Linked DNA regions of Homo sapiens. The protein of the gene in region 1 interacts with the protein of each later gene in a pairwise test. Each region holds a gene or a part of one and is shown on either strand. Other genes may lie near its edges.

Evidence for each region.
Region 2: the proteins of TPPP (region 1) and VDAC2 interact in binary tests that used the Homo sapiens proteins (3 or more experiments, as listed by UniProt).

Annotation. Positions count from the first base shown.
Region 1 is NC_000005.10:675,943-680,808, forward strand, and holds part of TPPP (tubulin polymerization-promoting protein), read right to left. Parts: intron 4,001-4,866; exon of another isoform or gene 3,567-4,000; coding exon of another isoform or gene 3,370-3,566; intron 2,123-3,369; coding exon of another isoform or gene 2,119-2,122; coding exon 1,808-2,118; intron 675-1,807; exon of another isoform or gene 1-674.
Region 2 is NC_000010.11:75,219,818-75,224,683, reverse strand, and holds part of VDAC2 (non-selective voltage-gated ion channel VDAC2), read right to left. Parts: intron 3,942-4,866; coding exon 3,714-3,941; intron 2,433-3,713; coding exon 2,282-2,432; intron 1-2,281. UniProt on the Homo sapiens protein: Non-selective voltage-gated ion channel that mediates the transport of anions and cations through the mitochondrion outer membrane and plasma membrane.

The DNA.
Region 1 (4,866 bases):
ACTGGGACTGGACAGGGTCAAGGATGAGACCAGCTCGCACCCGGGGCCCTGGATGGAGCCTCCCCTCCAGCTTCTCTGGGACTGAGGCTGGGAGCTGTCAGGAAGACGAACAGGACTCGCTGGCCCTGGTTGCCTCTGCCGTCCCCTAGAGCTGGGGGAGCCTGCAAGGCAGTCAGCTGGAGAGAGGGTCCGGGTTCAGGCATCCTTCTGAGCAGTTTCATGGCTTTTCTGGCATAACTTTCCAAACCCCAAATGCCCTCGGATGCACTCAGATGCGCCGTACACAACAGGAAGCTCAGCAGGACACGCAGTCTAGGAACATGCACGACCCAGGAGACACCCAAGACCCAGGGGATGTGTGACCCGGGAGACACATGTGACATCGCCACGGAGCACAGCAGAGACGGAACAGCTGCAAAGGTCACGGCGCCCACCCAGAGCTGGTAGATGGGGCGCTGGCGCCGCAGAGGTGGGCCCCACAGCCTTCCACACAGGGGCATCTGACCCACGGCCCGGCCCCTTGCAAAGCCAAGGCCGCAGAGGGGGAAGGTGCAGGAGCTCTGAGATGAAAGAGGTGATGAGTTTGCGGCAATGTAGGAATGAAATACATCGGCCACAGGAGGACGCAGGTGCAAACCACCGAAATAAAGCCATTGCCACACAGGCGGACAGGACGGGGCTCAGGGAGAACCGCTGCTTTTCTCGGGTGCGATCATGGTGGGGTGTCGGGACATGAGGTGAAATGTGCTGGGGCGTGTGAGGGTGCCTCAGTGTGCTTCCCAGCATTCATCCAGGAGAAAACAGACAATGCGTGACACGGCAACAGACGTGTGCACACATGACACAGAAACGCACGTGCACATGCAGAAACACATGCACACATGCGCACACGTGCACACACGACACAGAAACGCGCACACACGACGCAGAAACATGCACACACGACGCAGAAACGCGCACGCGCGCATACACGACGCAGAAACGCACGCGCGCACACGACGCAGAAACGCGCACACGTGCACACAGAAACGCACACACGACGCAGAAACGCGCACACGTGCACACGCAGAAACGCGCACACGTGCACACACGACGCGGAAACGCACACACGTGCACACAGAAACGCGCACACGTGCACACGACGCAGAAAAAGCAAACGGCACGATGCGGTTTCAAGGTGGTGGCCGGAGCCGCCTCCTTGGTGCCCTTTGCCATTTTGCCGCCCGTGGGAATCCTGGGGCAGAAATACAGCAGCACAAAGGCTTTGGGAGGGGCTGGGGGACACCCGAATGGCCAGCTCCATGCATGGGGACACAAGCATCCAACCTCTGAGACTCAGCCGCTGAGCCAGCCCACAGAGGGTCAGGAGCTCTGCCCGCCAGCAGCCACCTGCCCCTCCAGGCTCCAGGCAGCCACTGCCCCCACTCCTGGGGAAGCCCAGTGATCCCAGTCACAGCTCCCTGACTCCGGGGAGCAGCATTCACCCCGAGTCTGCTCTGAGGCCAGACATCCCCTCATAGGCCACCTCCCATGCCGAAACCCTACACACCCACGGGGCTGAGAGGAGCCAGGGCTGCCACTCAGGCCTCGGCACCGAGAAGTCCGGCAATGCCCGGACCCCTGCTCCCTGGGGGCCCAGATGGCACGTTCAGGCTCCCATGTCAGGGCTGCTTCTGAGAAGGGCGGGGTCTTGAAGCACAACCCCCTCCACTCCCCATGGCCCGCTCCCCACAGAACCCACCCAGGGGCTCAGGGCCGCAGACCCCCGTAAGTCAGGTCCCTCGGCCCGTGAGCCCAGCGCACTCACTTGATCTTGCTGAAGACGATGTCCACGTCAGTGACGGTCACGTTCCTGCCGTCGATCACCTGGCAGTCCTTGCACAGCTTCGACCAGTTCTTGCCGTGCATCTCCCTCCCGGTGGCCCTGGCGTCCCCGTGCACGGCAAAGCGCCGGAAGGCCTCCTCCAGGGCACTGAGCTCAGGGGATGCGGCTGCCCCCTCACCAGCACCCTCCGATTCCAGCGACAGCCTCTTGGCTGCCCGGTCCTTCGAGGGGTCCCCCGGGGACTTGGGGGGCGTCCTGTTGGCAGCTTTGGCAGGCTTGGCCTTGTCAGCCATGTTGCTATGGAGGAAGGAGAGGAGAAAGGTGTCACCCGGGCCATGTCCCAGCTGAGCCGGGTGCAGCCCAGGAAACCCCGCCGTACCAATGAGCACCAGGACGTGGCGAGGGCTGAGATGGGCAGGCCCTCCTGGGGCTGGGCGTGAGGCCCCTCAGACCCTTGGAGCCAGCTGCCCCGCAGGCACGCATGTCCAGCCCCGGGCAGAGTGGAGCCAAGCGAGGCCTTGCCCACTGCCATCATTGGGCCAAGGACCCCCTAAGCCAAATAAAGCCAGCAGCACGCAGAGCCCAGGGTGGGAGCTGAGCTGGGTGCCAGGGGCTCCAGGCCTAGGAGGCTCAGTGTGTGACTGGCAGCATCAGAGCCTATTCCGGGTCCCCTCCCCGCCGCAGTTCCACTGTCCCTCCTGTGGACGCCCGCTCTGCAGCTCTGGAGGACACCTCGGGATCACGCACTCCCCAGGGTCTGTGACGTGCTGCCTTCCTCTGGGAGGGTCCACAGCAGTCGTGCGACAGCCGCTCCCTCCCCACTGCAGAGCCTCTGACCTTAGATGGAGCTTTAGGCTGGGGAGGGTGCGTGGTGGCCCTGGGGGCGCCTCAGGATGCTCTTCCCAGGAGCCCTGGGCCTGGCCCCGGCCAGGGGAGGGGACTGCCAGTGTGCAGGGCTGAGGCAGTGGTGGGGGCACCGGTGTCAGGGCGCAGGGACGCCCTCTGGACTTTGCAAGGCGCCCGCCCCCAGAGTAGGCGGCTGGGCCATGGGGTTGAGAAGACTGAGGGGTGCCACCCAGGCAGGGCTTGGGGACGCAGGGCTACGCCACAGGGCAGGGCTGCCGAGGCCACCTCCCTACCATGCATGGGCTTCGGTAAGACCCAGTCAGGCCCTGAAGGACTCAAGGCTGAGGTGCTGGACTCAGGGCATGAAAGCTGCTTCCCAAAGGGGCCTGGACACCAGGTGGGCCGTCAGCACTGCACTGAGAGCTGAACATGGCCTCTGCCCACAGACACAAGAGCCGGTGGGAGGGTCCGTGCCGAGGACACAGGTAGGTGTCCCAACCCTGGGACTCACGAAGCCCTCTCAGATCTGGAGTTCTCAGCGCCAGTCATGGCCAAAGTGTGGCTCTGTAATCGTGGGGTCCTGAGTGTGGCCGCTGCTGACCCTGAGATCCCACAAATTCCCCCAAAACAGCCAGAAAAAAATCCAGGGGCACTCCCTCCACTGAGGACCTTAAGGGCCTCAGGCCCCACCCACTCACCCCTTTCCCTGGAAGGCACCAAAAATGCAGATGCCAACCCAGCGGAGGATGCAGGGGCAGGATCCTGGTGGGGGCTGGGCCGCGTGGGGGCAGGATCCTGGGGGTGGAAGGGCCGCCTGGGGGCAGGATCCTGGGGGTGGAAGGGCCAGGTCAGGTGTCGAGCTGGGAACAGTTTCCAGTTTTATCGCTGACACCATTTCTTTGTCTGAAACAGGAGCTTCTCACAGGCCTGGTCTGTGTTTCCCCTGGGCCTCTGCAGCAGGGGTCGCTGGACAGGAGGAGCAGCTGAGAAATTACCAGAAGCAATGGTGGGTTTTGTGAGCACCCAGAACAGTGGTGGGTGTGCGGGTCAGAGAGAAAGAACCTTCTGGGATGCTTCAAACTCAGGGCTGCGTTCTGTGGTCTCATCTCCTGTGGGGACGCGCCTGAACAGAGACCCTTATTCACACACCTCAGAGAGTCATCTGAGAACCTGCACCCCGTGGGGCCCGCCTGGGAGCAAAGGGATGAGGGAAGCCCCTCAGAGCCACCTTCAGGGCTCACGCAGGACTTCCCAGCCCATCAGCACGTGCTTTGCATGAGGTTTTGATAAGCTTGGAGGTTGGCCTTGGAGGGCTGAGCGGGACATAAAACGTCCTGCCCTCATGAGGCCTTCAGTTGGGACAAGTGATAAACAAATAAGCAATGACACATCAGGCAGCGAGGAGTGAAGAGGAGAAACTGAGGCAGGTCAGAGGGAGGCCAGCAGGCGATTTCAGACCTGGCGGAAGAGAATGTGCGTGAGCAGAGATGCGGACGGGTGGGAGTCACGACGCGTGAGAACGGTCCGGCCCGCGGCCCCTGCGCCCCTGCTGGGCAGGCACCACCTGTGCTAGGCTCAGCCCCTCTCAGCACAGCAAGCAGCATGAGATGGCACGCATGAGAGCACGGTGGGGGCCGTGGGGGAGAGGGCAGAAAGGAACAGGGGTCAGGCCATCGCCGGATCTACTGAAGACAGACACTGCCTTCAAACGTTCTGAGGAAAAATGCTTCAGGCTGGGACTTGGATACCCACGTCCACTGTCCCACTCAGGCTGAGGGGAGCAAGGCCACCTGCAGTGGGTGTGACCTCAGAGACGTGGCCACACCCCCTGCGGAGGTGCTTGGTGACTGGGCTTCCCAGGAAGACGAGGGTGACAGCCGTCAACAGCCGAGAAGAAGTAGTAGATGCAGGAACCCATGGCCGTCACACGGGAGTGAGTCCACGGGCGCTTGGGAGGGCTGAGAACCAGGCCCAGGCAGTTCCGGAGGGAAAAGTGGAACCCGTCCCAACTCAGCCCCAGCCTTTCTGCACCAAGGGGTGGAGCAGTGCCGACCTCAGACGCCAGCTGCCAGAAATGCTTCCAAAGCCCGCCTCTGCGTGGGGTGTGTGCTGAGGGGTCTCACGTGGGGACTCGCCTCAGAGCCCATCTGAGCTTCACTGTTCTAGGTTCTTGTAGTTTTGTTTTACCTCAAACA
Region 2 (4,866 bases), on another chromosome or scaffold:
TCTTTCACTTTGATTTTAGCTATCACAAATAACAATAATCAAGGGATTGTATATTTTGTTTGTTTCTTATTGTTTGCGTTTCCTTATGCACCCAGTGAACCAACTCCCTTGGAGTTGGATCTATCTTTGAATTCCACTGGTAATTTTTAAGTACCTGAGCACAGCACAGTTGTGGCTCCATAGCAGGGGTGACCATCTGACCACCCAGGAGTCAAAAGTTCCTCATTTCCCATCCATTTATCCTTTTTCTTCCTAAACCATGCTTCGATGAGCCACTCTAGCTAGAGCCACTCTAGCAAATCCCAATCCTGACATCAATTCTGAGGATACAGAAAAAAACCAACTCAGTTTCTCCTACTATTCTCTCACAACACAGAATGCTTCTGTGACCACATGTGTGAGGGCTTTCCTCACACACCAAGCAAGCAATAATTTCTGCAGCAGACACTGGCTAAATGTCCTCTAATTCTACCTGGAGACATCAGATGCCACAGGTTAAGGGCTTAGTCCCACAAGACTGCCCTCCTCCCACTTCAGATGCCAACTGCAAGCCCCAGGTTGTTTTAACTCTGCTTCTGACCTGGCACCTCTAAACAGAGGTTCCCACAAGCCCCTTCTTGGGTTCAATTAATCTCCTAGAGCAGGTCACAGAACTCAAGAAACACTTTATTTACATTTACCAGTTTTAATAAAGGATATTACAAAGGATACAGATGAAGAGATGTACAGTGCAAAACATAGGAAGGGACACAGCTTCAATGCCCTCTCCAGACATGCCACCTTCCAGTAACCTCAGCTACCTAGCTCACTGACCTCTGTCCTTGTGGGTTTTCATGAGGCTTCATTATACAGGCATGACTGATTAAACCACTAGCCATTGGTGAACAATTAAACCTACAGCCCCTCTCCCCACCCCCTCTAATCACACCTTGGTCTCTCCACTGACTAGCCTCCAGCCCGAAGCTACCTAAAGGTGGCCAGCCACCAGTCAAAACTCATTAGCATACAAAAAGATACTTAATACTTTCGGGATTCCAAGGATTTTTTAGGAGTTCTATGCCAGGAGAGGGAAGGAGAACCAAATATATACTTCCTAATATCACAAGGAGCATTAAGCAATGCTTCTGGGTACTGCTGAATTGGAGTGGCAGCTAACATTACTGAAGTGGGAAAGGCTAGGTACATTTCCAAACTAATTCCCAGGAGTCATTAAATGACACAGGGGTCCCAAGCTGCCTTCCCATTTTAACTATGAACTCCTAGTAGCTGAGAGAAGCTTCTTCCACTTACATTAAATCTGTTAAAATGCCACAGACATCCAAGAACATCAATGTAAGTAACAGAATAGTGTACTGTATGAATCTTGAGGTTTTTATTGCTGTAGTGCAATTAGAAATGGAGAAGGCGGCCAGCTGTGGTGTCTCATGCCTGTAATCCCAGCACTTTGGGAGGCTGAGGCGGGTGGATCACTTGGGGTCAGGAGTTTGAGACCAGTCTGGCCAACAAATCCCATCTTTACTAAAAAATACAAAAAAATTAGCCAGGTGTGGTGGCGGGCACCTGTAATCTCAGCTACTCAGGAGGCTGAGGCAGAAGAGCTGCTTGAACCCAGGAGGCGGAGGTTGCAGTGAGCCAAGATCGCACTACTGCACCCCAGCCCGGGCGACAGAGACTCCATCTCAAAAAAGAAAAAAAAAAAAAAAAGACAAAGTGATGATTAAAATACTAGCCAGGTGCAGTGGCTCATGCCTATAATCCCAACAGCCTCCTTTGGGAGGCTGAGACAGGATGATAGCTTGAGCCTAGGATGGGCAACATATGGAGATCCCATCTCTACAAAAAAACATCAAAAAATTAGTTGGGAATAGTAGGAGGCTGAGGTTGAACCCAGGATGTCAAGGTGCCGGGAGTCGTGATTGTGCCACTGCAGTCCAGCCTCGACAACAGAGAGCCTTAAAAAAGCACTATTATTTCTGACACAGTAAGAACCACTCAGGGACCAAACACCAGCTATACCTGGACTTAGACAGGCCTATGGCTCAAGGTTATCATCAACATTAACTCGGCAGCTTTTGAGGTTAAACAAACTCCACCAGCCTGGCCTGGAAATAAAACGTCTAACACTGTATCCATCAAAAAAGCGCATTTCAAAATCTAAAACTAATCTATCTGTAAACTGGGGACTGTGTGAAATCAGTTCAAATTTTCAACATAATTCAGTATACCCAAAGACTCATTCCCACAACCAAAACCCCCATTCTAAGTCCACAAAAGTACTCACAGAAATGGAAGCAGTGGGATCCAACTGATATTTAGCTGCAATGCCAAAACGAGTGCAGTTGGTACCTGATGTCCAAGCAAGGTTTACTGAAGTGTCAAGATCTTCACAAACTTTCTGATAAATTGATCCTCCAAATTCTGTCCCATCATTGCTATAAGATATTTTAAATTAGTAGATCTAGAATAGACAATGTAATAATGTCTAAGGCACAGGCTGATTTGTAGCATTACATTTAAATAAAAAACCACAGCTCAAGTGGGTCTTTAGTGTTCCACTGAAAACTTGCAAGTTTTAACAGGTTTTTTTCCCCAACCCATACCCATACAGGGATTGGTAAAATGAACCACAGAATATCCATTCAGTGGAATTATCACACTGTATTAAACATGCAAGAGGTTCTCAAACAGCCTTTTGGTTACGTATTTTATATATAAGTATATATACACACACATATAAAAAGGTGAACCACAACATTAACAAAGATTATATACCTAGCTGGCATGATTGTAAGAAACGTAGGTTTTCTTCTTTGTGCTTCTGTTATTTACCAATGAATTTTTACAATGGAAAGAAAAACATTTTAAGTACTTTCTATGTATCTATCTAGTTTGGGCTAGGTAAAAACACCAGGCTGGATGCAGTGGCTCACGCCTATAATCCCAACACTTTGGAAGGCTGAGGCGGGAGGATCGCTTGAGGCCAGGAGTTTGAGACAAGCCTGGGCAACATAGCAAGACCCCATCTCTACAAAAATAATTAAAAACAAACAAACAAAAAAACAACAATAGCCGGGCACAGTGGCTCACGCCTGTAATCCCAGCACTTTGGCAGATCACGAGGTCAGGAGTTCCAGACCAGCCTTGCCAGCATGGTGAAACCCCGTCTCTACCAAAAATACAAAAATTAGCCAGGCATGGTGGCACACGCCTGTAGTCCCAGCTACTTGGGAGGTTGAGGCAGGAGAATTGTTTGAACCCGGGAGGCGGATGTTGGAGTGAGCCGAGATCGCAAAAGAGCAAGACTCTGTCTGAACCAAAACAAAAAAAGAAAGAAAAAAGAAAAAGAAAAAAAAACCCAACCACAAAACACCATACATTTTAGGCAATCCTATCAAGTCAGCATCTCACACATCAAAATAATTAAGTAAAATGAATGTACTGGTAGCAGTCTGCCAATATATAATGCCTCTTGTAAAAATACAAAGCACATTAAACCCCATATAAAATGAACATTTACTCTCTCAGCACCAAAGGTCAGACTAACAGTCTTCTACTATAAACTTTCAAGGGGCACCCTAGAAATGACCAAGAATGATTTTGTTTTTAAATGTTATGAGAAATCCTTTAGGGTGCACCCAGATCAATAAGATGACAGACATCAAAATCATCCTCTGAGGGCCCACATCACAGTATCCTATGAAAGAAATACTTACACATTAGTGTGTAGCTGGAAGTCCCCAGTCCTGTAGCCCACTGCAAAGTTATTCCTTGTCAGCTTTGATTTGGCACTGTCAAAGGTCATCTGGTAGCCAGCAAGCCAGCCCTCATAACCAAAGACAGCTGAACCATGGATTGCAGGTCCAGCAAAATCAAAGTCAACATCACAACCAAGGTTTATACACTCCCTCTTGTAAGAAGACTTGATTTTACCACTTTTCTTTCTGGAAAAAGAACAAACTGATGTCATTGGGAAAAATTTACACACACTTCTGCACAAGAGAGCACAAAACAGACTTAAATAAACTGCAGTATGACCAGGGAGTAAAAATCAGCAATACAATAACAGGGAGTAAAAAAGTCAGCTCAATGAACTACAAGACAAGGACACATGAAGCAACTGGACAGCCATCTAGGAAAACTGCTTTGCAGAACAAACAATCAGTCACAAAAGCCTGTTAGAAACACATTAGTTGCCCAAGTTAGTGCAACAACAAAGAGGCAAATATTTGAAGGCAAGCCAATGATAGCAACCATAGTATTCTAAAAGCAGATATGGGCCAGGCATGGTGGCTCCCGCCTGTAATCTCAGCACTTTGGGAGGCTGAGGCGGGCGGATCACCTGAGGTCAGGAGTTTAAGATCAGCCTGGCCAGCATGGTGAAATCCCGTCTCTACTAAAAATACAAAAAAATTTAGCCAGGCACGGTGGCATATGCCTGTAATCCCAGCTACTCAGGAGGCTGAGGCAGGAGAATCGCTTCAACCCAGGAGGCAGAGGTTGCAGTGAGCCAAGATCGCACCATTGCACTCCAGCCTGGGTGACAGAGAATAAACAAACAGGCTGCGAGCGGTGGCTCACACCTGTAATCCCAGCACTTTGGGAGGCTGAGGTGGGCAGATCACGAGGTCAGGAGTTCAAGACCAGCCTGATCAACACGGTGAAACCCTGTCTCTACCAAAAATACAAAAATTAGGTGGGCGTGGTGGCACATGCCTGTGATCCCAGCTACTCAGGAGGCTGAGGCAGGAGAATCACTTAAACCCGGGAGGCAGAGGTTGCAGTGAGCCGAGATCGCGCCACTGCACTCCAGCCTGTGTGACAGAGTAAGACTCTGTCCCAAATGAAAATAAAATAAAATAAAATAAA